Linked DNA regions of Homo sapiens. The protein of the gene in region 1 interacts with the protein of each later gene in a pairwise test. Each region holds a gene or a part of one and is shown on either strand. Other genes may lie near its edges. The genes, in order: MAP2K3, MAP3K5, GLIS2, FGFR4, ARNT, SMAD1 and TERT.

Evidence for each region.
Region 2: the proteins of MAP2K3 (region 1) and MAP3K5 interact in binary tests that used the Homo sapiens proteins (3 or more experiments, as listed by UniProt).
Region 3: the proteins of MAP2K3 (region 1) and GLIS2 come close enough for resonance energy transfer, tested with the Homo sapiens proteins (one large-scale study listed by BioGRID).
Region 4: the proteins of MAP2K3 (region 1) and FGFR4 come close enough for resonance energy transfer, tested with the Homo sapiens proteins (2 studies listed by BioGRID).
Region 5: the proteins of MAP2K3 (region 1) and ARNT come close enough for resonance energy transfer, tested with the Homo sapiens proteins (2 studies listed by BioGRID).
Region 6: the proteins of MAP2K3 (region 1) and SMAD1 come close enough for resonance energy transfer, tested with the Homo sapiens proteins (one large-scale study listed by BioGRID).
Region 7: the proteins of MAP2K3 (region 1) and TERT come close enough for resonance energy transfer, tested with the Homo sapiens proteins (one large-scale study listed by BioGRID).

The regions. Positions count from the first base shown.
Region 1 is NC_000017.11:21,301,711-21,305,210, reverse strand, and holds part of MAP2K3 (dual specificity mitogen-activated protein kinase kinase 3), read right to left. Parts: intron 3,069-3,500; coding exon 2,952-3,068; intron 2,029-2,951; coding exon 1,977-2,028; intron 786-1,976; coding exon 658-785; intron 161-657; coding exon 83-160; intron 1-82. UniProt on the Homo sapiens protein: Dual specificity kinase. Is activated by cytokines and environmental stress in vivo. Catalyzes the concomitant phosphorylation of a threonine and a tyrosine residue in the MAP kinase p38.
Region 2 is NC_000006.12:136,561,978-136,565,477, forward strand, and holds part of MAP3K5 (mitogen-activated protein kinase kinase kinase 5), read right to left. Parts: intron 639-3,500; coding exon 526-638; intron 1-525. UniProt on the Homo sapiens protein: Serine/threonine kinase which acts as an essential component of the MAP kinase signal transduction pathway. Plays an important role in the cascades of cellular responses evoked by changes in the environment.
Region 3 is NC_000016.10:4,329,567-4,333,066, forward strand, and holds part of GLIS2 (zinc finger protein GLIS2), read left to right. Parts: intron 1-2,648; 5' UTR 2,649-2,714; coding exon 2,715-2,886; intron 2,887-3,500. UniProt on the Homo sapiens protein: Can act either as a transcriptional repressor or as a transcriptional activator, depending on the cell context. Acts as a repressor of the Hedgehog signaling pathway. Represses the Hedgehog-dependent expression of Wnt4.
Region 4 is NC_000005.10:177,089,915-177,093,414, reverse strand, and holds part of FGFR4 (fibroblast growth factor receptor 4 isoform 1 precursor), read right to left. Parts: intron 3,026-3,500; coding exon 2,762-3,025; intron 2,671-2,761; coding exon 2,590-2,670; intron 2,478-2,589; coding exon 2,311-2,477; intron 1,731-2,310; coding exon 1,607-1,730; intron 1,095-1,606; coding exon 904-1,094; intron 770-903; coding exon 631-769; intron 278-630; coding exon 84-277; coding exon of another isoform or gene 10-83; coding exon 1-9. UniProt on the Homo sapiens protein: Tyrosine-protein kinase that acts as a cell-surface receptor for fibroblast growth factors and plays a role in the regulation of cell proliferation, differentiation and migration, and in regulation of lipid metabolism, bile acid biosynthesis, glucose uptake, vitamin D metabolism and phosphate homeostasis.
Region 5 is NC_000001.11:150,870,100-150,873,599, forward strand, and holds part of ARNT (aryl hydrocarbon receptor nuclear translocator), read right to left. Parts: intron 1-3,500. UniProt on the Homo sapiens protein: Required for activity of the AHR. Upon ligand binding, AHR translocates into the nucleus, where it heterodimerizes with ARNT and induces transcription by binding to xenobiotic response elements (XRE).
Region 6 is NC_000004.12:145,544,353-145,547,852, reverse strand, and holds part of SMAD1 (mothers against decapentaplegic homolog 1), read right to left. Parts: intron 1,151-3,500; coding exon 929-1,150; intron 1-928. UniProt on the Homo sapiens protein: Transcriptional modulator that plays a role in various cellular processes, including embryonic development, cell differentiation, and tissue homeostasis.
Region 7 is NC_000005.10:1,285,069-1,288,568, forward strand, and holds part of TERT (telomerase reverse transcriptase), read right to left. Parts: intron 1-3,500. UniProt on the Homo sapiens protein: Telomerase is a ribonucleoprotein enzyme essential for the replication of chromosome termini in most eukaryotes. Active in progenitor and cancer cells. Inactive, or very low activity, in normal somatic cells.

The DNA.
Region 1 (3,500 bases):
TCCCCCAAAAGCTCAGGGCCCCAGGCACGGCTCCACCCACCCCACCTGACCACCAAGGGCAGGCCCTGGCCCCCCACAGTACCATGGTGATGCCCAGGCTCCAGACGTCGGACTTGACATTGTAGCCCTTCTGGTTCAGCTCTGGGTTGATCCTCTCAGGCTGCAGGAGGGAAGAGTGAGGCGTGAACACCCGCCCCAGGTAAGCCCCCATGGCTAGGCCTTGCCTCCCAATCCCCAAACTGAGCGCTCAGCTTAGCCCACCTGCCCATGTGACGGGGGAGGAAACTGAGGCTAGGAGGGCCTGGGTCATGCTTAGAAGGCCCAACCCTTGCATCGGTCTGACCCTACCCGGGAGCAGGCCCCTAAGGCCCTCCTGACAATGAGGGCGGGGCGGGACCTGCACAGCCCACCAGTGTCCTCCGCAGAGGTGGTCCATGAGCTTATCACCCAACTGGGGCACTGTGGGGGTCAGTTAACAACGGGGTACAGAAGGGCTGCCCCTGGGCAGCAAGACACAGGTGGCCCCACTACAGCAGGAAACGCAGTGTGGGGAGGCTCTGCCCCTACGGACAGAGGGTATGGCCGGGGTGGCCAGCCTGGGCAGATTTCTCCCCGCCCCATCCTCTCCTGAGCCTGGGGGGCTTGGGGACCACTCACGGCCATGTAGGGCTTGCAGCCGGCATCCATCGTCTTGGCCACAGAGTCCACCAAGTAGCCACTGATGCCAAAGTCACACATCTTCACATGGCCCTCCTTGTTGATAAGGACATTGGAGGGCTTCACATCTGCCAGGGAGGGACATGCCTCAGCCACGTCTGTGGAGCACGACTGGAGGCAGGTGCCATGCTCTGCATAGCTGTGCCCCCCTCCCTCGCCCAAGACCCCTCCTGTGCCCCCTCCCATGCCCCAGTGGGCAGGTTGCACCAGGGTCCCAAGGGTCAGACCAGGGAACTGAGGCTGCAAGAGGTGCCGGGCCAGCTGAGAGTCATACTTGGTCCTCAGGGAACAGCCAGGACGTGCCCAGCCCGGCCCGGCCACTGCAAGGAAGGCAGGACTCCAGGTGCTTTGCTGGGAGCACCGTGCCTGCATCCGCCCTCCAGACATGAGGTCCAGTGAGAGCCTGGCTTGTGTGGGTGCTCCCAGAGGGCAGCAGGATCAATTAAAGCCTGGGAGGCAGGATCTGCGTGTTTGGACATGGAGTCCCCACAGACCAGCATGGGAGAGCAGCCCAGCAGGGATTCTCCATACAAATGCGCATAGGACACTCACATCCCCGTGCCCTCCATGGGGATGTGTGTAAAGATGGAAATGCACATAAAAAGGACCAGAAGGTTCCGTGCCAACCGCCAACCACAGTGACCTGGGGGGCTGGGATGGGCACCCAGTGGACAATGGGAACTAAGCCTAATTCATTTTTTGAAAAGCAGTAAATCTGGAAAAATAGACTTGTGCTCAGCAGCAAAAAGGAACAAACTGAGACCACACCAGACCCAGGTGGGTCCAGAAACATCAAGCGAGGCTGATGTTCCAGAAAGGGCGAAACCAACCCACTGTGGGAAAACCAGACTTGTGGGTGCCTTAGGCACATGGGGGATGGCAGGGAAGGAGCCCAAGAGAACATTCTGGGAGGGGGTGAGAGAATTGTCCTGCATCTTGGAGGGAGGTGGTTGCATGGGTGTGAACATGATTATATGCACTCTATGCTGGAGTTTCACGATTTGTAAACTATACATCAGAACAGAACCCAGTCCACCTTTCTCAGGACAGAAGTCAAGCCAGTCCTTGCTTCGAGCACCAGCAAACCTGAGGGGAGGCAGCTGCAGGGCTGCAGGTGGAAAGCGGCTGGAACCCCATCGGGCACGTCACAACCTATCACCTCTCGGAGCCACAGTTGCTCATAGGGAGACGTCCACCCGCCTTGGCCTGGGATCCCTCCCACTGGCTACACCGTGCCTGGGTGGCTGCCGGGCACTGACCTCTGTGGATCACCGACAGCTTGCTGTGCAGATGCTCCAGGGCCCGCACGATCTGGCGGTGGGGTGGGGAGGAGGGAAGAGACAGGACTCTGTTATTCCTGGTCACGTCAAAAACGACAGAGCAGTAAGACCCCATCCATGTCCACCTGTCTCCCGCTCCCGCTGCACAGGCTACGCACCCTCTCATCCCAGCCTCCTGCCCTGTCCTGGCATTTGCCCCAGCATCCTAACAATCCTGGTGCAGACACACTCGGCCTCCTGCCTCCTCTCATCCTCCCGGGCTCACCTCCCAGGGAGGCATCATCACTGCCTGCCACACTCTTCTTGGGTAAAACCCAGCTCTTGGCAGCCTCCCTGTCCCATCTCCCCTCCCGTGGCAGAGCCAGTATTCTAGCAGCTTGGAGCCATTTCCCTTGGGAAGGCTGGGTGGGGAGCCTGAGGCAGGGGTATATTGTAAATGTTTCCAGATGCAGTGAGGATTGAACCAGTCTCACTGGTTCTATTTTCCTTTTTCCTTTGGCTACTGGAATGCTCAAGCCCAGTGTTGCTGCCCTCCCTCAAGGACTTTTTAGACTCAAAAAGCACACATTTTGGATGCTAACCTTTCCCCCAACTTAGCTTGTACCTCTGTGAGCTGCCCCGGGGCATTTTTAGTATGACGCTGTTGTAAATACTAAATTCCTTTTTTAAAAAATGATCTGGAACTCAAGAGTTGGAATCAATGGCTCAGACACCTGGATCTGCCAAATCTGTGGGGCTCCAGGAGCCCCAGGAGCGGAGGTCTCCTAAGCACAAAGGCTCTGGTCTGGGGTGGAGGAGAAGGGCCTATGCAGGGCAGCTGCCCAGGTTCAGGGGGCACATTGATGCCCAGCTCTGCCCAAGACACCATCAATAGGCAGGCTCCATGCCTGCTGGCAGGGCTGGGCCTCTGCCTATGCACCTAGGACCCCCCGCCAGCCCACCCAGGCCACTCACAGACACAGCAATCTCCCCAAGGATGTCCTCTGGAATTGTCATGTTTTTATCCAGCACCTTCCGGTAGAACTTGTCCAAGGATGTGTCCATGAGCTCCATGCAGATCCACACGTCTCCCTGTGGGTGACACCCAGAGCTCAGCCAGGCTGCCGGGCTGCCCGTGTCTGCACCACCTGCACTGCCTGCCCCAGCACCAGCCCCAGCCCCAGCCCCCTCTCCGACGTGTGCCCACCCACTCAGCCACAGTTCACCGGGCTCCCACCCACCACCCACTTGCCCGCTTCCCCCACCCTCCAACTCTGCCTGCACTGCCAGGTTCGGGCGCCAGCCTCCTCTATCTGATCCCTAATTCCAGGTGTCTCCAGGGAGGAAGAGGATTAGCACACAGCCTCGCTGGGTCCCTCCACCAGAGCTTCAGGATGCACCTGCACCAGCTCCATGGCAACAGCCGGCCCTGCTGACCGACAGACACCCTCATGCCAGCTGACCCTGGCAGATGGCTCCCTGCCTGCAAGGACCTGCTCCCTCTTCCCCAGTGAACTCCTGAGG
Region 2 (3,500 bases), on another chromosome or scaffold:
ACTATATAATTATCATAATCTCTTTTTCCACTATGAAAGAGCCACATATCTAAACAAATAACTATGAATTCTGTTTTCCTCTAAATGGGCTAAATAACATTCTCCCCAGCTATGCCTTTTTACTACTACATCTTTATTCTATTTAAGCCTCTTCAAATTATAAGGAAAAAGGCTAGAATACACAGAATATAAATGCAAAATGACAAAAAATAGTATTATTTATTCTAGTAAGCTCATTGTGAAATCTTTAAAAATAAAGACTAAAAACAGAGAGCCCTGTTTACCTCAGTAATACATAATCTCAGGAAAAGATGATTATGAATAATCTATTTTTACTGCACTTATAAGAAATGAGTTTGCTACAGTTAAAAACTGGATTTTTTTTTTTTAAAGGAATTCCTGCTTGCAGTCATGGTAGAAGTGAGAAATGCTGACTTAGCCACAAATAAAACTTCCTGTTGGCTTTCTTGGCTTTTTGTGGCAGCCTGGCTGAACAGTATTACTATAAAACTTTCTGCTATTCACCTATGGGTTGGGACTTAAGCTTCAGGTGTTTAATTTCTTGGTCTTTTTCTTCAATAGCTCGATGAAGGAGTGCTTGTAATTCTTTCTCTTTCCGAACCAATTCTTCCAGTAATCTGCAGAAGAAAAATATATTGTTTGACAGGAGGTGACACAGGGTGACCTTCTTTTTTTTATTTTTATTTTTTTAGATACAAGGTCTCTCTCTGTTGCCTAGGCTGAGTGTAGTGGCCCAATTATAGCTCACTGCATCCTTAAACTCTTGGACTCAAGCGATCCTCCCATCTCAGTTTTCCAAGCAGCTGGGAATACAGACATGCACCACCATGCCTGGCTAATTTTTTTTTTTTTTTTTTTTGTAGAGACAGAGTCTTGCTATGTTGTCCAAGCTGGTCTCTGAACTCCTGGCCTCCAGTGGTCTTTCCACCTCAGCCTCTCAAAGCTCTGGGATTATAGGTGTGTGCATGTGCCACTGTGCCAGGCCTAGGATGACCTTCTAGACATGAGCTATAATAAGCACATACACCCCTAATTTTATTGAAATACAGATACTGGTCCAGTGCCCCGGGGGTGAGTTCTGAGACTGTATTTATAATGAGCTCCCAGATGACACTGATGTTGCAGGTTCACAGACCCTCAGGTCCAGAAGCTAAGCTTTGGAAGACTGTGCTTGCCGACAAGAATTCAAAACCTCCACCACAGATTGTCTGCCAAAATCTTCAGAGATGTGTCCTGATATTTCTTGTTATGACCATAAATGTCAAAGATATAAATATGGGATACAGATATTAACAGGCCTATATTTTACATGTATGGACCCCCATTAAAAAAAGTTGGCAAATGTGCATAATTTCATAATCAATGCAAATCAGAAAAGTAATCACTTTTTGTAAACTATGAAAATTTGAGAAACAGTCATAGGTGAGGTCGCCTAGAATATCTGGCATATAACAAATTCTCAGTAAATGTTCACGGTTGTTGCTACAATTGTGATTGTTACTATTATTCCTCTTCCTTCTAAGGGGGCGGGGGTGAAGTGGGTAAAAGGATAGCTGTGTTCCTGGTACATTCAGTTCCTAGTTGGCATCTGATGCAGTCTCCAAAGAAACAAGGAGAAACTGTGATATTCATACCAAAGTTCTTACCCATAGAAGGTTCACTATGCAACTGAGAGCCAACTGGTAACCTACTCACCATTTCCAATAGAATTTCTCAAAGAAAACATTCCAAGTTATGAAAAGAGGTGCTCTAATTTTTTAGAAAAGTATCTTAATGTAAGTTGGATTCAGAAATAATAATTTAAAATATATCGTTATTAAGATTATCAGGATAAATCGTTGCATAAACTACAGCTCTTAACAAACTCTATTTGTTTCATTTTCTGAGTATTGATAGATTTAACTCAAGAGTTTGTTTCTGCTTCACTTGACATAATCTGAAGGCAGCATCGTGCAACTGACAGATCTGGGCTTGTGTCCTGGTTCAACCCTGCACTTCCTGTGTTAACCTTAGATAAATTACCTAATGCCTCCAGGCTTCAGTTTTCAAATCATTTGTAAAAAAGAAAACTAAAGCTTCCAGAAAAGATTATTGTGAGCATTAAATGAGACAGCATAGGTACAGTGCCAAGTCAGTGTCTGGTCTTTAATAAGGGATGTTCTGTTCCTTGCTACCTCAGTCCCTGGAAAAGAGCCTTTCCAGGACTCAGTGGGAAGGAAACCTTCCCAGACCCCCAGGCTCGACCCCATTCCCACAGGACATAAAGATGAGATCCTCAGAGAGAAGGGATCACAGCAGAGTAGGTAGCAGAGGTGGGACAAAAGTAAAACACAATAAGAGGTAGACAGAGAAGGTGGGTGGAGGAAAATAAGTTAACAAAGACAGCTGCAGGGTAAGTGTGGTGCACAATGAGGTGGATGAAGCAGCATGAACTGAAAGCTAGAAGAGGGAGCACAGGGTCTTGGAGGGAGGCTTCTTATCTCTTTCAAAACAAATATTATCCAAAGAAATGGGCAGGAAGCTCTGTGTGAATGTTTAAGTTGGCAGTTTTTTGATCTGGTATGTATTTTTGTCCTACTTGCTAATTTATACGTATAAGACAGTGATGGTATCTTCTTACTGTTTTCTCAAGGAACACAGTGATGTTTTCTAGAGTTTAACCTATGTTTGTCTAGACTATGTAATTTCTTTTTATCTTTTGTTAAAGTGAATGAAATATGGCCTGAGAAGGACTCCGTACTTGCATATTTGAGTCCTCGTGGACAAACTATAACTTAACAGGTAGACAAGATTGAAAACCTAACTTAGGAGTATGCGTCTATAACAATAGCTGAGTCTTGGCTAATCCCAGGAGCCATACTTCAACCACTCATACACTGCTGAGTGTTCAAATAAGGTGAACGCCAACCCATAACAAATCCAGCTCTTTCTGCACACTTCTGATTTCTGTACGTCACTTTACTTTTATTTTCTATAAATTTGTTCTGGCCACGAGGCATCCCTGGAATCTCTCTGAATCTGCTGTGATTCTAGAGGCCACCTGATTCACAAACTATTTTTTTCTTTTTCAATTAAACTCCATTAAATTTAATTTGTCTGAAGCTTTCTTTTAACACCTTAAACACCAGAACTTCAACACTGGAAGCAGAGTATTGACAGCCCACCTCATTTGCTCCGAATCCAGCTCTTAGAAGTATTTATCTTAAGAACAATCCAGTACATCAATTTTATTTTTATTTTGTGTTTATTTAGCAGGGCAATATTTTGAAATCAAGGCAACTGTCTGCCTTTCTGTTCCAAAAAAGTATGGCAGGATCTGCCATGAGGTCAATTTTTAACCTTGGATGGGCAGGGGTGATGAGGTGGATTGGTGGGTAATTCCAGAACTGTAGGATGGGGAAATTAAATAAACAGGCAGCTCCTCTTGAGACAGGTTTTTGTTTTTGTTTTTGAGATAGGGTCTTGCTCTGTCACCCAGG
Region 3 (3,500 bases), on another chromosome or scaffold:
GGACCATTTTATGCCCTACTTGCTTGGAGAGTCAGGGCAGAAGGGGAGGACGTGGGAGCTGCCTTCCTGTCCTGCCCTGTGGACAGCATCTCTCCCCACTCACAGGCTATGCTAGCCCCCAGGGAAACACACGGGGGCATATCCAAAGTATTTCACCATGTAGTAGTTATGTCCACCATGGCCGCCCTTTGGTATTGAGTAAAGACCCCAATACCGCGAAAGACGGGATCTCACAGCGTGATTGTGCGGCAGTTAGATTTTCAAGTTGTAATAATCCCAATGAACAAACGCAAGGAAATGTCGTGTTTAACCGCGTAGGAAAAGATTGCTGCTCTGAATGTGAAGTTTGGGTTTAGAATGAAGTGTTGACCTTGTTCTTGGGTCGGTGGATACTGTTAGATCATTTGCATGTGAGGAAAATTACACCAGGTGGGGCGAGGTGGCTCACACCTGTAATCACAGCACTTTGGGAGGCCGAGGTGGGCAGATCACCTGAGGTCAGGAGTTTGAGACCAGCCTGGCCAACATGGTGAAACGCTGTCGCTACTAAAAATAGAAAAATTAGCTGGGTGTGATGGTGTACACCTGTAATCCCAGCTACTTGGGAGGCTGAGGCAGGACAATCGCTTGAACTCGGGAGGCAGAGGTTGCAGTGAGCCCAGATCACACCACTGCACTCCAGCCTGGGTGACTGAGAGACTCCATTTCCAAAAAGAAAATGAAAATTAAACCAGTGAGAAATTCTAAGAAAAATGATGAAAATTACAGCATGGGAAGTGATACTAAAAGAATACCATCTCCAGTAAAAAATAATTTCTACATATTTATATATTAACCGCCAGATACAGCTGGTCAACTCCACCAACCCTGCCCCAGCTGGCCAGGCCAGGCCACAATCCCCAGCTGCCCCCTGGTGGCGACCCAGCGCCCTGGGGCTCCCTGGCTTGCGATGCCTCTCCTCTAGGCCTCTGCAGGGAGGGCGGTGGGGCCCCTGGCTGTGCCCACTTTCTCGGTTTGCCTGGTGCGAGTTCCTTGGTGGTGAGCGTGGCTACCTGCCGGCCATTTCAGAGGATGCTCCTTGCCCCCTGGCCTGGTTCTAGATCTTTGGGGTCAAACAGGGCGGGAGTCCGGAGCATGGCTCCTGCTCTGTCAGAAAAGGCTGTTAGGACACGGCTAGCCAGTTCCCGGGAGATCTGGCTTCAGGCCTTGAATCTTGTTGGGAACAGGCCCCCCAAAATCTGGCTGTAAACTAGCCCCAAAACTGGCCATAAATAAAATCTCTGCAGCGCTGTGACATGTTCATGATGGCCATGACGCCCACGCTGGAAGGTTGTAGGTTTACCAGAATGAGGGCAAGGAACACCTGGCCCACCCAGGGCGGAAAAACTGCTTAAAAGCGTTTGGCTTTTTGTTTGTTTGTTTGTTTTTGAGACGGAGTCTTGCTCTGTCGCCCAGGCTGGAGTGCAGTGGTGCGATCTCGGCTCACTGCAAGCTCTGCGTCCCGGGTTCACACCATTCTCCTGCCTCAGCCTCCCGAGTAGCTGGGACTACAGGCGCCCGCCACCACACCTGGCTAATTTTTTTTTTTGTTATTTAATAGAGTTGGGGTTTCAGCGTGTTAGCCAGGATGGTCTCTATCTCCTGACCTCGTGATCTCCCCGCCTTGGCCTCCCAAAGTGCTGGGATTACAGGTGTGAGTTACTGCGCCCGGCCACAGGCGTTCTTGAACCACAAACAATGGCATGAGTGATCTGTGCCTTAAGGACACGCTCCTGCTGCAGATAACTAGCCAGACCCATCCCTTTATTTCCCATAAGGAATACTTTCAGTTAGTCTATAATCTATAGAAACTATGCTAATGACTGGCTTGCTGTCAATAAATACGTGGGTAAATCTCTGTTCAAGGCTCTCAGCTCTGAAGGCTGTGAGACCCCTGATTTCCCACCCCACACCGCTATATTTCTGCGTATGTGTCTTTAATTCCTCTAGCGCCGCCGGATTAGTCTCCCGACCGAGCTGGTCTTGGCAAATCTGATAGTTTTTCCACTTCTGAGCTCTGCGATCTGAGGCGATGCCTGTAAAAGACGCAGTTTCGCCAAGCGTGGTGGCTCAGGCATGTAGTCCCAGCGTTTTGGGAGGCCAAGGCAGGAGGATCGCTTGAGGCCAGGAGTTCGAGATCAGTTTGGGCAACATGGAGAGACCCGATCTCTACAAAAAAGAAAATTTTTTTTTTTAATTAGCCAGGAGCGGTGCCTGCCTGTAGTCCCAGCTACCAGGGAGGCTGAGGTGGGAGGATCGCTTGAGCCTAGGAGGTCGAGGCTGCAGTGAGCTATGATTGTGCCACTTGCACTCCAGCCTGAGTGACAGAGCGAGACTCTGTCAGCAAATAAAATTCAGTTTCATGGCAAAATGAAGAATGTGAGCTTTGTCTTCCCCAAGAGACTCATGGGAAGCAGATGCGGAATCTCTGAGGAGGCTGTTGGCTCTCCCCCCATGATAGCTGCCGGCCAGGTCGCTCGGAGGGTCTCCCTACCCAGGAGACAACCTCACACTGCCCCCTGCTCCTGCTCCTGTTAGACTGTCATGAGTACAGCCCGAGGAGAAGCCTGGGGTCTCAGTGCCACAGCACAGCTCCTGTCCTTCCCCAGGTTCCTGCGTGAAGACCAGCTGGGAGCCCACTGCCTGCTGCCACCTCCAACTCCGGCCCCCTCACCATGCACTCCCTGGACGAGCCGCTCGACCTGAAGCTGAGTATCACCAAGCTCCGGGCGGCAAGAGAGAAGCGGGAGAGGACGCTGGGTGTGGTCCGGCCCCGTGCTCTGCACAGGGAGCTGGGCCTGGTGGATGACAGCCCCACACCTGGCTCTCCAGGCTCCCCGCCCTCAGGTACTGGCCCTGGGCAGGGCAGGGGGACTTAGCCCTGATCCAGTCATGGTGACAGGGAGAATGGCCAAGTGTGTCCACCAGCATGTAGCTGCAGCCCCTCTCGGCTTCCGGTTCATGGGAAGCCCGCACGCTTGTCCTTCCATCCGCCCAGCATCGTATGTCTGCAGGGAGGTGGGAGCTGCAGTGCCCAGCTCACGTGGCTGGCACACGATGCAAACTGAGGCCTCTAGGCAGATCTGGAACAGAGCTGGTCGGGCAACCAGGCATTCAGAAGGAGCGGCAGTAGTCCCAGGACCTGCACCCTAGGCTGTGGGGTGGTGCCGCTGGCCAACCTGGGCAGTAGAGGCTGGGTCTGAGCCCAGGAGGTGCCTCTCAGGGATTCCCGGTGCTTGGGCCCAGGGTGGTGGGCACCACTTCTGCCCTGCCTCCAAGAGCAGAGTCACCCGAAAACCAGATTCACCGCTTGTCTGAAGGGGAAGGCTATGGGAGCAGCCCAGCCCGAACCTGCCACTTTACAGAAGGGAACACTGAGGCAGGAAGGGGCCTGGGAAAAGCTAGAAAGGTTCCTACCTGCCCGTCTGACAGGGACCCAGGGGCCCTGGGTTCGAGTCCTG
Region 4 (3,500 bases), on another chromosome or scaffold:
CAGGGAGAACTGCAAAGTGGGAGACTTGGTTCTGCCTGCTGGAGTCAGGCTGTCACATGTGAGGTGGGGGATGCGCCCAGTACCTGTCGGGCCAGAGGGAAGCGGGAGAGCTTCTGCACAGTGGCGGGCGGGCGGGGGTGCCGGCCGTGGAGCGCCTGCCCTCGATACAGCCCGGCCAGCAGCAGGAGCACAGCCAAGGCCAGGGAGCCCGACGCGTACAGGATGATGTCCGTATACCTGGCCTCGGGCGCTGCTGCGGTCCATGTGGGGTCCTCCTCTGCCCTCGCACATGGACACACACAGACAGACAAACTGGTCAGTGGTGAGACTGGCCGCCCCGTGCACCCTAACTCAGTCCCTCCCAGCTCCCAACATATGTGGGGACACACACGGAGGAAGCTGTAGTTATGCCCAGTCCCAGGCACCCACACCTCAGCAGACGGTCACATGGACGGCCACGTGTGGAGAGGCACAGAGGGGCTGTCATACAGCTCAAACCCACAAATCCACACACTGCCCCCCAGGCCAGACCCCACAGGCCAACAGAGACTGACCACCCAACAGGCCACAGCCCCCACTGCTGGCCCAGAGGGGCATCTCGCAGCATCTCCTGGCCCTTCAGGTGCTCACCTGGCAGCACCGTGAGCCAGGCAGACTGGTAGGAGAGGCCGATGGAATTGCCTGCGAGGCAGGTGTACTCGCCTGCGTCCTCGGCTGACACGTTCCGCAGGTACAGGACCTCCACCTCTGAGCTATTGATGTCTGCAGTCTGGGGTGGGGGACATGCTCTGGGGTCACAGCAGGGCCTGGGGCCACACTGTGGCCAACAGGGAAGCTGGGGAGCCCCCCAACCCAAGGTGGGAGAAGAATGGGGCCCAGGCTGCAGCAGGGTGCACCTTTTACCTTTAGGACTTGCACATAGGGGAAACCGTCGGCTCCGAAGCTGCTGCCGTTGATGACGATGTGCTTCAGCCACTGGATGTGGGGCTGGGCATCGCTGTACACCTTGCACAGCAGCTCCACGTCGCTGCCCACCACGGCTGTGGTGTTGGCCGGGAGCCCGGCCTGCAGGATGGGCCGGTGCGGGGACCGCTCTGGGGACCGGGCGAGACAGTCAACCCTGACCACCGGCACCCATAGAAGCACCCTGTTTGCCTCCCTCCAGCCTTCCTCAAGTTCAAGGGAGGGACCTTTCTGCAGCTTCTTGTCTGTCTCCTGCTTACCCTGCTTAAACCTTCCCTGGCTCCCTATTGCTTCGGGTCAAGGACAACATCTCAGCCTAGCATTCAAAACCCTCCACCACCTGGCTCCCCATATAAACGCCACGCCCTACGAATATGCTGGCCTGCAAGTGCAGGGCGTTTGTTATACTCAGGCCCTCCGCTCGGGCTGCGCCCTCTGCCTGGATGTCCTTCTTGTTTTTCCTCTTGGCAGACCTCTGCTCCTCCAGCCCCACACTAACCCCTGTGCTTTCCCCTGACCCACCTGCTCACCAAGCTGCCTGACTCATCTGAGTCCATCCTGCCTGCCAGACTAGACCCCACCAAGAGGGCACAACTGAGCCCAAAATGGGTCAGGCCTCCCCTGTTCCCAGCCCCGCGCTCACCCAGCACATCTAGCAGGTAGTTATAGCGGATGCTGCCCACAGCGTTCTCTACCAGGCAGGTGTATGTGCCGCGGTCCGAGGGCACCACGCTCTCCATCACGAGACTCCAGTGCTGATGGCGCAGCTGCAGGCAGAGAGAGTGTCCGGGACCACCGGACCATGTCCACCAAGGGGGCCAGAGGACCAGGAGGCTAGATCCTCATCCTGCCCACAGGGCTCTTGTCAAGCTCTCTAGGCCCTGAGAACATCAGGCCCAGGCCAAGGACTATGGCACAAAGGAGTAGGCTCCCCAGGGCGCTTGAGCCTTGGGTTTGAGCCTTTGGAATTTTAGCTCTCCCTCTCCCTAGCTGTGCTACTTTGAGCCAACCCTTGCCTTCTCTGAGACTCAGTTGCCTCATGACAGCATGGAGCCGACCCTGCAGGGTCTCATCAAGACGATGAGATGCTAAGGCTTATGCAGACCAACCAGTCAGTGATTCTTCTCCCTTTACAAATGGAGTTGCTGAGGCTGAGAGGTTAAGTCACTTGCCAGAGAGTAGCAGAAGGGGAACCAGAGCTGCCCAGGTCCACAGTCCAGGGCTCCTTCCGGGGCCCCGCAATCGCTTCACTCATTCGATTGATTTATAGGTATGCTTGTAGGTATGAGGGGACTGATGAAGGAATGAAAATGGGGGAGCAGACGGTCTTGGAACCCAGAGACTCACCCGAATGCCTCCAATGCGGTTCTCCCCATGAAAGGCCTGTCCATCCTTAAGCCAGCGGATGGTGGGCGTGGGGTTGCCTGCAGCTGGACAGCGGAACTTGACGGTGTTCCCCGCAGGTACTGCATGCAGTTTCTTCTCCATGCGCTGGGGGTGTGTCCAGTAGGGTGCTGGAGGGCAGGGGAAGGCCCCTAGAATGACCGTGTGTTCCCACACAGGCCTCCTCTTCTCAGTGATCAGATGAGCAGCAGCGGGGACACAAGTCCTTGGAGACCTACTGACCTTGCTGGGGGTAACTGTGCCTATTCGAGGGGTCCCTATGGGACTTGGGGTCCTCATCATCGTTGCTGGAGGTCAAGGAGTCTACATCAGGGACAGAGGGAAGCATCTAAGGTCCAAGAGGGGCAGGTCTGTCTCCCCAGGCATCCCTTCACTCCCTGCTAGAGTCTCTTACCACCTGTAATCAAGGTGAGATTCTGCAGGACGATCATGGAGCCTCGTGCCAGGCAGAGGTAGCGGCCAGCATCCTCAGGTAGGAAGCTGGCAATCTCTAGGCGGCCCCTCCAGCCCCGTACACGGCCAGCAGGTGCCAGGCGACTGCCCTCCTTGTACCAGTGGCCACCACGCTCAGCCCGCCCACAGCACAGACGCACAGGCTGCCCAAGGGCTACTGTCAGCTCCTGCTCTTGCTGCTCCAGGCTGGGAGCCAGGCAGGGCTCTGTGGGCAGAGGGCAGAGGTCAGCAGACCCCGCAGCCCCATCTGAGGCAGCCTCCTGTGTACAAAGAACACACCGCACATGCAGGGCACAAGCACTTTGCAACGCATGCTGAAGGAGCCACCACTCCTTGACACCCACACAGCCACATGCTGCGGATGCCACACCCAGGGCAAATGCCACACTCTTGGGGCATGTCACACACACAGCATTTAGTGCACACGACAGTGGCCAAGACACACACACACACACACACGCATACACACACACACATACGGACACACACACACACAAGGCACATGCTGTTGGTGCCACATACAGGGTCATGCTGCACCGGGGCATATCACCCTCATAATGCTTATACCACACATGCTGCCTGGACCTCCTAGGTCACACACCCAGTGCACAGAACACACACACACACGCACACACACCCAGGTAAGGAGCTCACCACCAGCTCTGCAGCCCAGCTTAGGG
Region 5 (3,500 bases), on another chromosome or scaffold:
CAACAATAAAATTCTGTCTCTAACTTCTAGTAGCTATGTGACTTCAGACAAGTTACTTATTCACTCTCTGTGCCTTAGTTTCCTCATCTGTAAAACAAGAATAATAATACTTACCTAATACGATTGTTATAAAAATTAAATGAGAACAGCTGGTAAGTATTACTAATAAATATTAGATATTATTATAGTTAGTACAAATTCATGATGTCAATGGCTTAATTAGTTTTATCCCTTCAAAGGTATTTCATATTAACAGTGGGTTTTACATTCATTTTTATTCCACAAACATACATTGAACTCTAATCCAACATACTAGGCACCCACTGTAAGCACTGCAATGCTCTGGTAAACAAGGAAAGCAAAAGTTCTGCTCTCATGGAACTTATATCCTAAGTATGCTGGTTTTGTTGTGTTTTTTGAGACAGGGTCTCACTCTGTCTCCTAGTCACCCAGACAGGAATGCAGTGGCACAATCATGGCTCACTGCAGCCTCAACCTCCCAGGCTCAGGTCATCCTCGCATCTCAGTCTCCCACGTAGCTGGGACTACAGGGAATGCTACCACACCCTGCTAATTTTTTGTATTTTTTTGTACAGATGGGGTTTCACCACGTTGCCCAGGCTGGTCTCAAACTTTTGGGCTCAAGCAATCCACCTACATCAGCCTCCCAAAGTGCTAGGATTACAGGTATGAGCCACCATGTCCAGCCCTAAGTATACTGTTGAATCCATAAACTTACTTGTCCATTCAACTACAATGAAAACGTGGAGGGAAAATATAAAATGGGCCTCAGAGGGTGGCTCACACCTGTAACCCCGGCACTCTGGGAGGCCGAGGCAGGAGGATTGCTTGAGCCCAGGAGTTTGAGACCAGCCGGGGCAATATAGTGAGACCCGGTCACTATCTAAAATAATAAAAACTTTAAAACAAGAAAATACATTGACGAAATTATGAAAAGTGACATAAATTTGAAGAGTTTATGTGAAAAGTTGGAGACAGTTGCTACAGACTAGACATAAAGATTAGCAACAAAATAGGAAAGTGCAGCCTGGCATATAGAAGGAACTTAATTATCCACTCCTTTCCCTGGGTTTGTCTCCTTAAGTGTAAAATGATAGGTGTTGTCATATTTCCAACCTGAAGATTCACTGATGTCTACTTACTAAAGTCATTATGGCATATTAGGCAGTCGTGGTTTTTTTTTTTTTTTTTTTTTTTTTAGACGGAGTCTCACTCTGTCGCCCAGGCTAGAGTGCAGTGGTACGATCTCAGCTCACTGCAACCACCACCTTCCAGGTTCAAGCGATTCTCCCGCCTCAGCCTCCCGAGTAGCTGGGATTACAGGCACCTGCCACCATGCCTGGCTAATTTTTGTATTTTTAGTAGAGACAGGGTTTCTCCATGTTGGCCAGGCTGGTCTTGAACTCCTGACCTCAGGTGATCTGCCCACTTCGGCCTCCCAAAATGCTAGGATTACAGGCATGAGCCACCATGCCCGGCCAAGGCAGCATTCTTAAAAACAGATGGCGGCGGAGCATGGCGGCTCACGCCTGTAATCCCAGCACTTTGGGAGGCCAAGGTGGGCGGATCACCTGAGGTGAGGAGTTCAAGACCAGCCTGGCCAACATGGAGAAACCCTGTCTCTATTAAAAATAAAAAATTAGCCGGCGTGATGGCAGGTGCCTGTAATCCCAGCTACTCGGGAGGCTGAGGCGGGAGAATAGCTTGAACCCAGGAGGCGGAGGTTGCAGTGAGCCAAGATCACGCCATTGCACTCCAGCCTGGGCGACACAGTAAGACCCTGTCTCAAAAAAAAAAAAAAAAAAAAAAAAAGGCCTTTGCAATATAATAAAATACTATCTCTTTTTTTGTTGGGGGACAGGGTCTCACTCCAACACCCAGGCTGGAGTACAGTGGCATGATCACAGCTCACTGCAGCTTCAACTTTCCAGGCTCAGGTGATACTCCCATCTCAGCCTCCCAAGTAGCTGGGACTATAGAAGTGCACCACAGTGCCCGGAAAATTTTTTGTATTTTTTGTAGTAAAGGGGTTTCGTCACGTTGTCCGGGCTGGTCTCAAATTCCTGGGCTCAAGCAATCGGCCTGCCTCGGCCTCCCAAAGGGATTAGAGGCACGAGCCACCACACCTGGCCATAAAAGAATATCTTGACATCTTAACTTTACATTGCATGAATTCCTATTTTCCCATATCTGAAAAAGGTAAATAAAGGTAACAGGTAAGAATTGTGTTAATTGACGCAGTTAAAACTAAGTTATATAGGTGAAAATTAGCTAAAAAAAATTTTCTTCCTAAATGACAGCCTTACAAACCCAAACGGTATTACCCTTTTCCTTCTACATTCTTCATCCACAGTAACTTGTACATAATAGCACAAAAAGAATTCTCTGCTAATGAGAATACCAGAATCAAGAGAGATAAAAACCTACACTTACTACAAACTCATTCAACATCTCTAGTTTGAATTTGGAATTGTAAATCAAATACCTAATCTCCTCCCAACTGTTCCCTCAGCCAATGCATTACAAATGACACATTCAATTTAAAAAGTGTTCCACCTTGGCTGGGCATGGTGGTCATGCCTATAATCCCAGCTCTTGGGGAGTGCCCAACGCAGGAAGATCACTTGAGGCCAGGAGTTAAAGACCAGCCTGGGCAACATAGCAAGACCCTGTCTCTAAAAAAAATTTAAAATTAGCCAGCCACGGTGGTGCACACCTGTGGTCCCACCTACTCAGGAGGCTGAAGTGGGAGGATCACATGCTCCCAGAAGGTCAAGGCTGCAGTGAGCCATGATTGTGTCACTGCACTCCAGCCTCAGTGACAGAGCAAGACCCTCTCCTATGGGGAAAAAAAATGTGTTCCTCAAAACTTGTCTAGTCCGGGCCGGGCACGGTGACTCAAGCCTGTAATCCCAGCACTTTGGGAGGCCGAGGCAGGCGGATCACAAGGTCAGGAGATCGAGACCACCCTGGCTAACAGGGTGAAACCCTGTCTCTACTAAAAATACAAAAAAAAAAATTAGCCGGGCGTGGTGGCGGGTACCTGTAGTCCCAGCTACTCGGGAGGCTGAGGCAGGAGAATGGCGTGAACCTGGGAGGCGGAGCTTGCAGTGAGCCAAGATAGCACCACTGCACTCCAGCCTGGGCGACAGAGTGAGACTCTGTCTCAAAACAAACAAACAAACAAAAAAAAAACAAAACAAAACTTGTCTAGTCCATAGATAAGAAACAGCCTAAAGTTTCATGGACCACCTACCCACCGAGTTCTACTTGCCAGTGATAAGTAGAACTAGTGAAAAATGATAGAATATGAAGAATTATCAATTCGAGAAAAAAAATCATCACAGAACTATTACTTCAACACAACTCTTAGAGAGTACCAACCATATTTTACTCTTCTTCTAATGCAGCACCACAGTGAAAAATGCAGAAGAACGTGGTCCCCTTGAAAAACACTGCAGGGCCACCAGCACAATTAA
Region 6 (3,500 bases), on another chromosome or scaffold:
ATACACACATACGTAATACATGAGAACATAAACATGCATACATACATACACATATGTATTACTAAAATCAGAATTTTGCACTGATACTTCTATTCTCCTTCACAGGGTTTACTTTTTGCTCCCCTCCGCATTTATATGTCTGTTTTCCACAGTGGAAACCCAAGCTCCCAACAATATCCACACATTTAGTCATTTGCTTCATCTTTACATATGAAAGTTTCAGAATGGTTTCACTCATACTGCTATGAAATAATCAAGTTTACTAAAAAGAGTTCGGGATTTATTTGAAATCCTACCCCTACTCTATCTACTCCACTCAGCCTAGGCTGAGGATATATAGTCACTTACTATATTCATAACTTACTAGGCTTGTTTTTTGGTCTTTATTTTTTCTTATTATAAATATATCCATGCCTGATTTTTTGTTCTTTTGAAGGTGCTGTCTTATATGGACAGTTGTTCAATTTGGTGTCCCTGTGGGGGTACAATCACTGCAGGGTTCTATCGTGCCACCTTGCACGATGTTTGTGCTAAAATCTAGTTCTTTCTTTTCTATTTACTGAGTTATGGTATTCATTTGAAATACAATTAAGCAATTAACTGTAATTTGCTTTTAATTTTAGGTTGTGATTCATTTTATAACAGCCAATTTATTCTGCAGCAAAATATCATACAGAATAGTGTCTTAAAATGGCAAATCATAATTTCAACTAATTAATTTCAATATTATGAGTTGATCGACCACAAAAATCACTGACTGCAAGAGCTTCCAGATAGCAGAAACTGGAAAAATATTTACAAACTGCAGCAAGTGAACATTACCTGGTCTTTGCTACAACAGTTTGTTACAGGAATGATTTTAAGTCAGCTCTGGAGGAACAGGGACACAACAGATAAACATCTGAAAGAGGTTAAAGCAAAAACTCACCTTTTCCAATATGCCGCCTGGTGTTTTCAATAGTGGAATTCCGGTTAACATTGGAGAGCAGCCCAAGGCAGAAACGGTTCTTATTGTTGGAAGGATCAGTGAAACCATCCACCAACACACTTGTGGAGGAGGCATGGAACGCTTCACCCACACGATTGTTGAGCTCATAGTAGACAATAGAGCACCAGTGTTTTGGTTCCTCATAAGCAACCGCCTGAACATCTAGAGGAAAGAAAATGTTATATCAACCAAGGTTAGTGCCTCAGGCTCTCAAAAACTGAAACCGTGTTGTTGAATTGGCTCAGGATCATGGAATGAAGACACTGGAAAAGCAATTGCTATTATAATGTATACAGTTTTTCTATGATGTTTAAAGCAGGTACTTCTTAATATGACACTCTCCTTATTCTCCTAATTGGAGAAAATTGGAGAACAATTTTCTCCAATTACTATCAGATAACCAAAACACCAGCTAAGGAAGCACAGCAAAAACTTTTGCTGAATATTAACAATATGCTAATTGCTCTGTAATATGCAGAAATGGAAATCACCCCTACCACAGACTTTGGCTCACCATCTAAAGAAACACAAGTGACAAGTGAAAAAATAAGTGGGAAGAGAACAATAGAAGACTGAAAATATGCCAAAGGTACTGGCATAAAAATGAATTACTTTTGGCAAAGACTAAGTATGCCTATGCTTATTCAAAGCCATGAAAATCAGTTTCTAATTATTGATAAGAAGTTACTTTACCTCATATTAAGTTGCCAATAACTATCACAGCTACAGTGTTGCTCCAGTTCTCAAACTCAGGAAGAAATCTTGCCAGCTGGCCATTCTTACAGAATGAATCATATCTTTCTCATCCAGATTTCATGCTAACTTCCTTATATTTGCTTTAAGTCATGCAGAGCAGGTGTGTTTTGTCTCTCCATTCCCAGAATGGGCCAACAATGGAAATTACCCAACTTTACTGACAGGATGCAGCTTGTTAAGTCAAATCTCTTAAGACTAACAAATCTCCAAACAGAACATGGTTCTAAACATTTGCAACTAAAAGGTTTTAAAGATGAATTCCTTCTGTAGTAAAACCTCTTGTACCACTCCTTTAGAGATTCCAGGAATACAAACCATATATTTCCAGCATACCAATATATAATGATCTGAGGTTTATGAAGTCTTGGGTGTACAATAATAAAAGGAGGAAAAGAAAGAAAGTCCACATCAGAAGCCCAGACTACAACTGCTAAGGGAGAAGCACCTCTGTGTTCTTAACATCAAATTCCACAAATACTAAAATGCACTTTACTTTAGAATTTGGTAAAAAACAAAACAACAATAACAAACACACACACACACACACACAAAAAAAAAACAAGGAAAATACTCATGAAAAAACCCACACATAAGTTAGTCGCTTTACATATGTAAGTAGTTAGCTAAAAACATACACTATCTTCCCTGCTTGCTAAGCAACTCTACCACATCAATTTGCTATAATTCAAAGAGCAAAACTTTAGTGATTTACAAGTGCCAAATCTTAAAGCAGACTGCAACATTATTAGCAGAAGGCTTTTATCAGCTATCAGGATACTTCAAAATACTATTCATCTAGGTCAGAGGTTGATGAATTTTTTCTGTGAAAGGCCAGCAAGATTTTATGGGCTGTATAATCTTTATCACAACTATCCAATTCTGCCCTTGTAACACAGAAGCAGTCATAGACAATATGTAATGAATGAATACAGCTGTGGTCCAATAATGCTTTATTTACAAAAACAGATAGCAGGCTGAATTGGCCTGTGGGCTGTAGTTTGTTCACCCCTGCTCTAGGAAAATCACCAAAGGTTAAAAACAAGTTAAAAAAAAAGCGGGGGGAAGAAAAAAAATGGCCAACATTCCTTCCTCGTGAAAATATTAACTGACTATAAACTATAAAGGAAAAAAAAATTAAAGCTATTTAAATGAAAAAAATCTTAAAGCAATTTAAAGATCTGTTTCCTGAAATCAGACATTTTGGGTTTAGTAATAATAGTTACTGGGTCCACATGCTCCTAATAGTGTGGTACTGTGCCTATTCTCTCCTGGTATCCTGGTCCCCAAATATAAATTCCACAGATGTGTGAGATAGGGGTTATTTCCCCCAACCAGAGTGTTCATTGACTCAGAATTATGTTTGATAAGATGTTCAAGAGATAATCAGGAACCATAAAATACAGAGGCAATAAAAAAGATTTAAAAAATCATAATGATTAAAGTGGTGTACATTCCAATTTATGACACTGCACATCCAAGAAAGGTCCTTTGAGTTTATCACCAATTTTTTTTTTCTTTTTTTTTTTTGAGACTGAGTTTTGCTCTTGTTGCCCAGGCTGGAGTGCAATGGTGTGATCTCAGTTCACTGCAACCTCTGCCTCCTGGGTTCAAGTGATTCTCCTGCCTCAGCCTCCCAAGTAGCTCGGACAACAGGGGCCCGCCACCACACCCAGCTAATTTTTGCATCTGCAGTAGAGACAGGGTTTCACCATGTTAGGCAGGCTGGTCTTGAACTCCTGACCTCAGGTGATCCACC
Region 7 (3,500 bases), on another chromosome or scaffold:
CCCCTGACCTGCACCATCCAGACACCACACATCCAGCTCACAGCAGGGCCTGGCGACCTCACCCCGGACCTGCATCATCCGGACTCCATACCTCCAGCTCACCGAGGGCCTGGAGACCTCACCCCTGACCTGCACCATCCAGACACCACACATCCAGCTCACAGCAGGGCCTGGCGACCTCATCCCAGACGTGCACCATCCGGACACTGCACATCCAGCTCACTGAGGGCCTGGCGACCTCATCCCGGACCTGCACCATCTGGTACAACAGCCATGGCCATGGGAAGCCCAGCAGGTCCAGGCCGAGATGGCCACGCACGGGACCTACACACGGGATCCCGCAGACAAAGCTCAAAAAATGTCAAATGTCCTGTGAGTGATGCTCCCACCAATAACACCCTAAAATGATGAGGTGTGGACATGCTGGGCTTCAGTAAAATCTATTATTACATTAATTTCACCTTTTCTTTTTTACTTTTTTAATGTGGCTACTAGAATTTTTTTTTTTTTTTTTTTTTTTGAGACAGAGTCTCGCTGTGTTGCCAGGCTGGAGTGCAGTGGTGCAATGTCGGCTCACTGCAACTTCCAACTCCCAGGTTCAAGCAATTCTCCTGCCTCAGCCTCCCGAGTAGCTGGGATTACAGGCACCCGCCACCACGCCCAGCTAATTTTTGTGTTTTTAGTACAGATGGGGTTTCATCATGTTGGCCAGGATGGTCTCGACCTCCTGACCTCGTGATCCACCCGCCTTGGCCTCCCAAAGTGCTGGGATTACAGGCGTGAGCCACCGCGCCCAGCCTAGAAATTTTAAAATTATCCACATGGCTCACGTCATGCTCCTGTTGGGCGACAACGGCTCGGAGCCTCATCCTTTGTCCTGGTTCCCAAGCAGAAGGGAGGAAGCAGACACTCCCCCGCCAGGCAGCACCGTCAGAGCTGGCGCCACACCGCAGGTTTGCGCGATTTCAAACTCGACACCGCGGAGCCACCAGACCCCGACATGCCTGGGGTTTTCCAGGCTGAACCCAGGCCGAGCGGACGTTGCTGTCACTCACTGGCTAAGGAACGCTGGCCACGTGGTGCTCCAGACACTCACGGGCCAAGATGACCGCCCTCCTCGTGAGTCTCCACATCTTCATCTGTGCATCATAAGCAGAGGTCCCCGGACGTCGCTAGATGCCATGGAGGCCAGCACAGGTAAAGCTGGGGTTTACCAGCAATAACAAGACAGAAGAACCACGCAAAGGACAAGGAAGGGGACCCCAGACGGCGGGCCTGAGACAGAAGACAGACGGGGAACAAAGGAGGAAAAGCAGGGCGGGGGCAAAGCTACAGAAACACTCAACACGGAAAACAATATTAATAATGCTTAGCTTGTGGGGGTGTCAAGATGCCTGAGATAGAACTAAGTCAGCAGGGAAAACAGCACACAGGCTGGGGGGTGGCCAGAGCTAAAATACACTAAGGGTCTTATTGCTCAGGACAAGGGTAGCAATGTTTCAGACTTCATTTTAAAAGATCAAGGTATGCCGGGCACGGTGGCTTGCACCTGTAATCCCAGCACTGTGGGAGGCCAAGGCGGGCAGATCACTTGAGGTCAGGAGTTTGAGACCAGCCTGGCCAACATGGTGAAAGCCTATCTCTACTAAAAATACAAAAATTAGCCAGGCGTGGTGGTGGGCGCCTGTAATCCCAGCTACTCATGAGGTTGAGGAATGAGAACTGCTTGAACCGAGGAGGCAGAGGTTGCAGTGAGCCGAGATTGTGCCATTACACTCCAGCCTGGGTGACAGAGTGAGACTGTCTCAATAAACAAAAGCAAACAACGACAATAAAAAGATCAGGGGGTAACACTAAGCAAAGAGAAATAAAAGCAAATGCCCAGTGACCAGGAGGCAACGAGAGGATCAACACACACTCGGCAGGAAACGCACATGGCAACCCAAGAGGTGGTGAGAAACAAGGGAACGAGGACATGCAACAGGCAAGTGGAGAATCAGAGTGCACCAGGCGGGTCTCTAGTGACAAAAAAATGAAAATAAATCAGGTTATCCAGTTAAACAACGACTGTCAGACTGGATTGGAAATTCACCTACATGCTGTTAACAGGACATACCCACACTATAAGAATATAAAAGTGTTGAAAATTAGGCCAGACATGGTGGCTCATGCCTGTAATTCAGCACTTTGGGAAGCCGAGGTAGATGGATCCCTTGAGTCCAAGAGTTTGAGACCAGCCTGGGCAACACAGCAAGACCCTGTCTCCAGAAAAAATTTAAAAATTAGCCAGGTGTAGCGGTGCGTGTCTGCAGTTCCAGCTATTCAGGAGGCTGAGGTGAGAGGACGGCTCAGGCCAGAAGGTAAAAGTTACACTGACCTGTGATCACACCACTGCACTCACCCTGGGCGACAGACCAAGACTCTGTCTCAAAAAAAAAAAATATATATATATATATATAAATTAAAGGCAGAAAACAGACACAGCAGGAAAATACTAATCAAAAGAAGCCCAGTGTGGCAGTACTAAGAGCAATTTAAAAAAAGAATTACTAGATTACTAGAGACATAGAAGTCTCCAAAAGATTCACTCATCAGGAAGATAAAAATTCTACCACGTGCATGCACCTAACAATGCCTCACATAAATGCTACCAAACGAGAAGAAATGAACAGACCCATCCCCCAGGTGAGGGACTATGGCCTCCTTCTTGGAATTTCATGCATCTAGAAGGAGACAGAAGCTTTGCACTGGACCTTAATAAGCTGGATATAGTGAACATGCATGCCCACTATTGACAGGATGTCAAATTTACAATGGACAGTTCTGGAAACCATGCACACACTAGATCACAAAGCAAGGCTCCGCAAACTTCAAATAATTGGTATTATACAGACCACTACACAACTGAGTTAGAAATCAATAATAAAATGATAACTTAAAATACTCTACGTATCTTGATACTCTACATATCTTGAACATAAACAGTGTTCAAATAACTCACTGCTCAAAGAAATCACAGAATAAGCTAAAGAATACTTAAAAGTCACTGATATCAAAATGATTTCACGTCAAAACACAGCGTGCACAAAGAAAAAAATCACAGAATAAGAATACTTAAAAGAAGTATTAACACTTTGAAGTATTTTAAGAACACTTGAAAGTGGCTGATGTTGAGATTACTTCACATCAAAACACAGGGTGCAGGTAAGGCAGCACTTAGAGGGAAAGGCATGACTAAACTAAGAAGCTAGAAAAGGAATGAAAGAATAAACCAAGAAAAAGCATACAATGGAGAGATAGAAACGTCAGAGGTAAATCAGTGAAATTCAAAACTAAGACCCAAGAGGGAAGTCTGACGAAGGCTGGCGGAGACACCGGCCCTCCACGTGGGTCTCAGAGCAGGAGACAGACAGAGACACTCCAACCTGTGGCTGGACGTCAATCCATGTGAGGGGGCGACTGGAGGCAGAGCCCAGCCTAAGCAATGAGCGGCAGGTGCC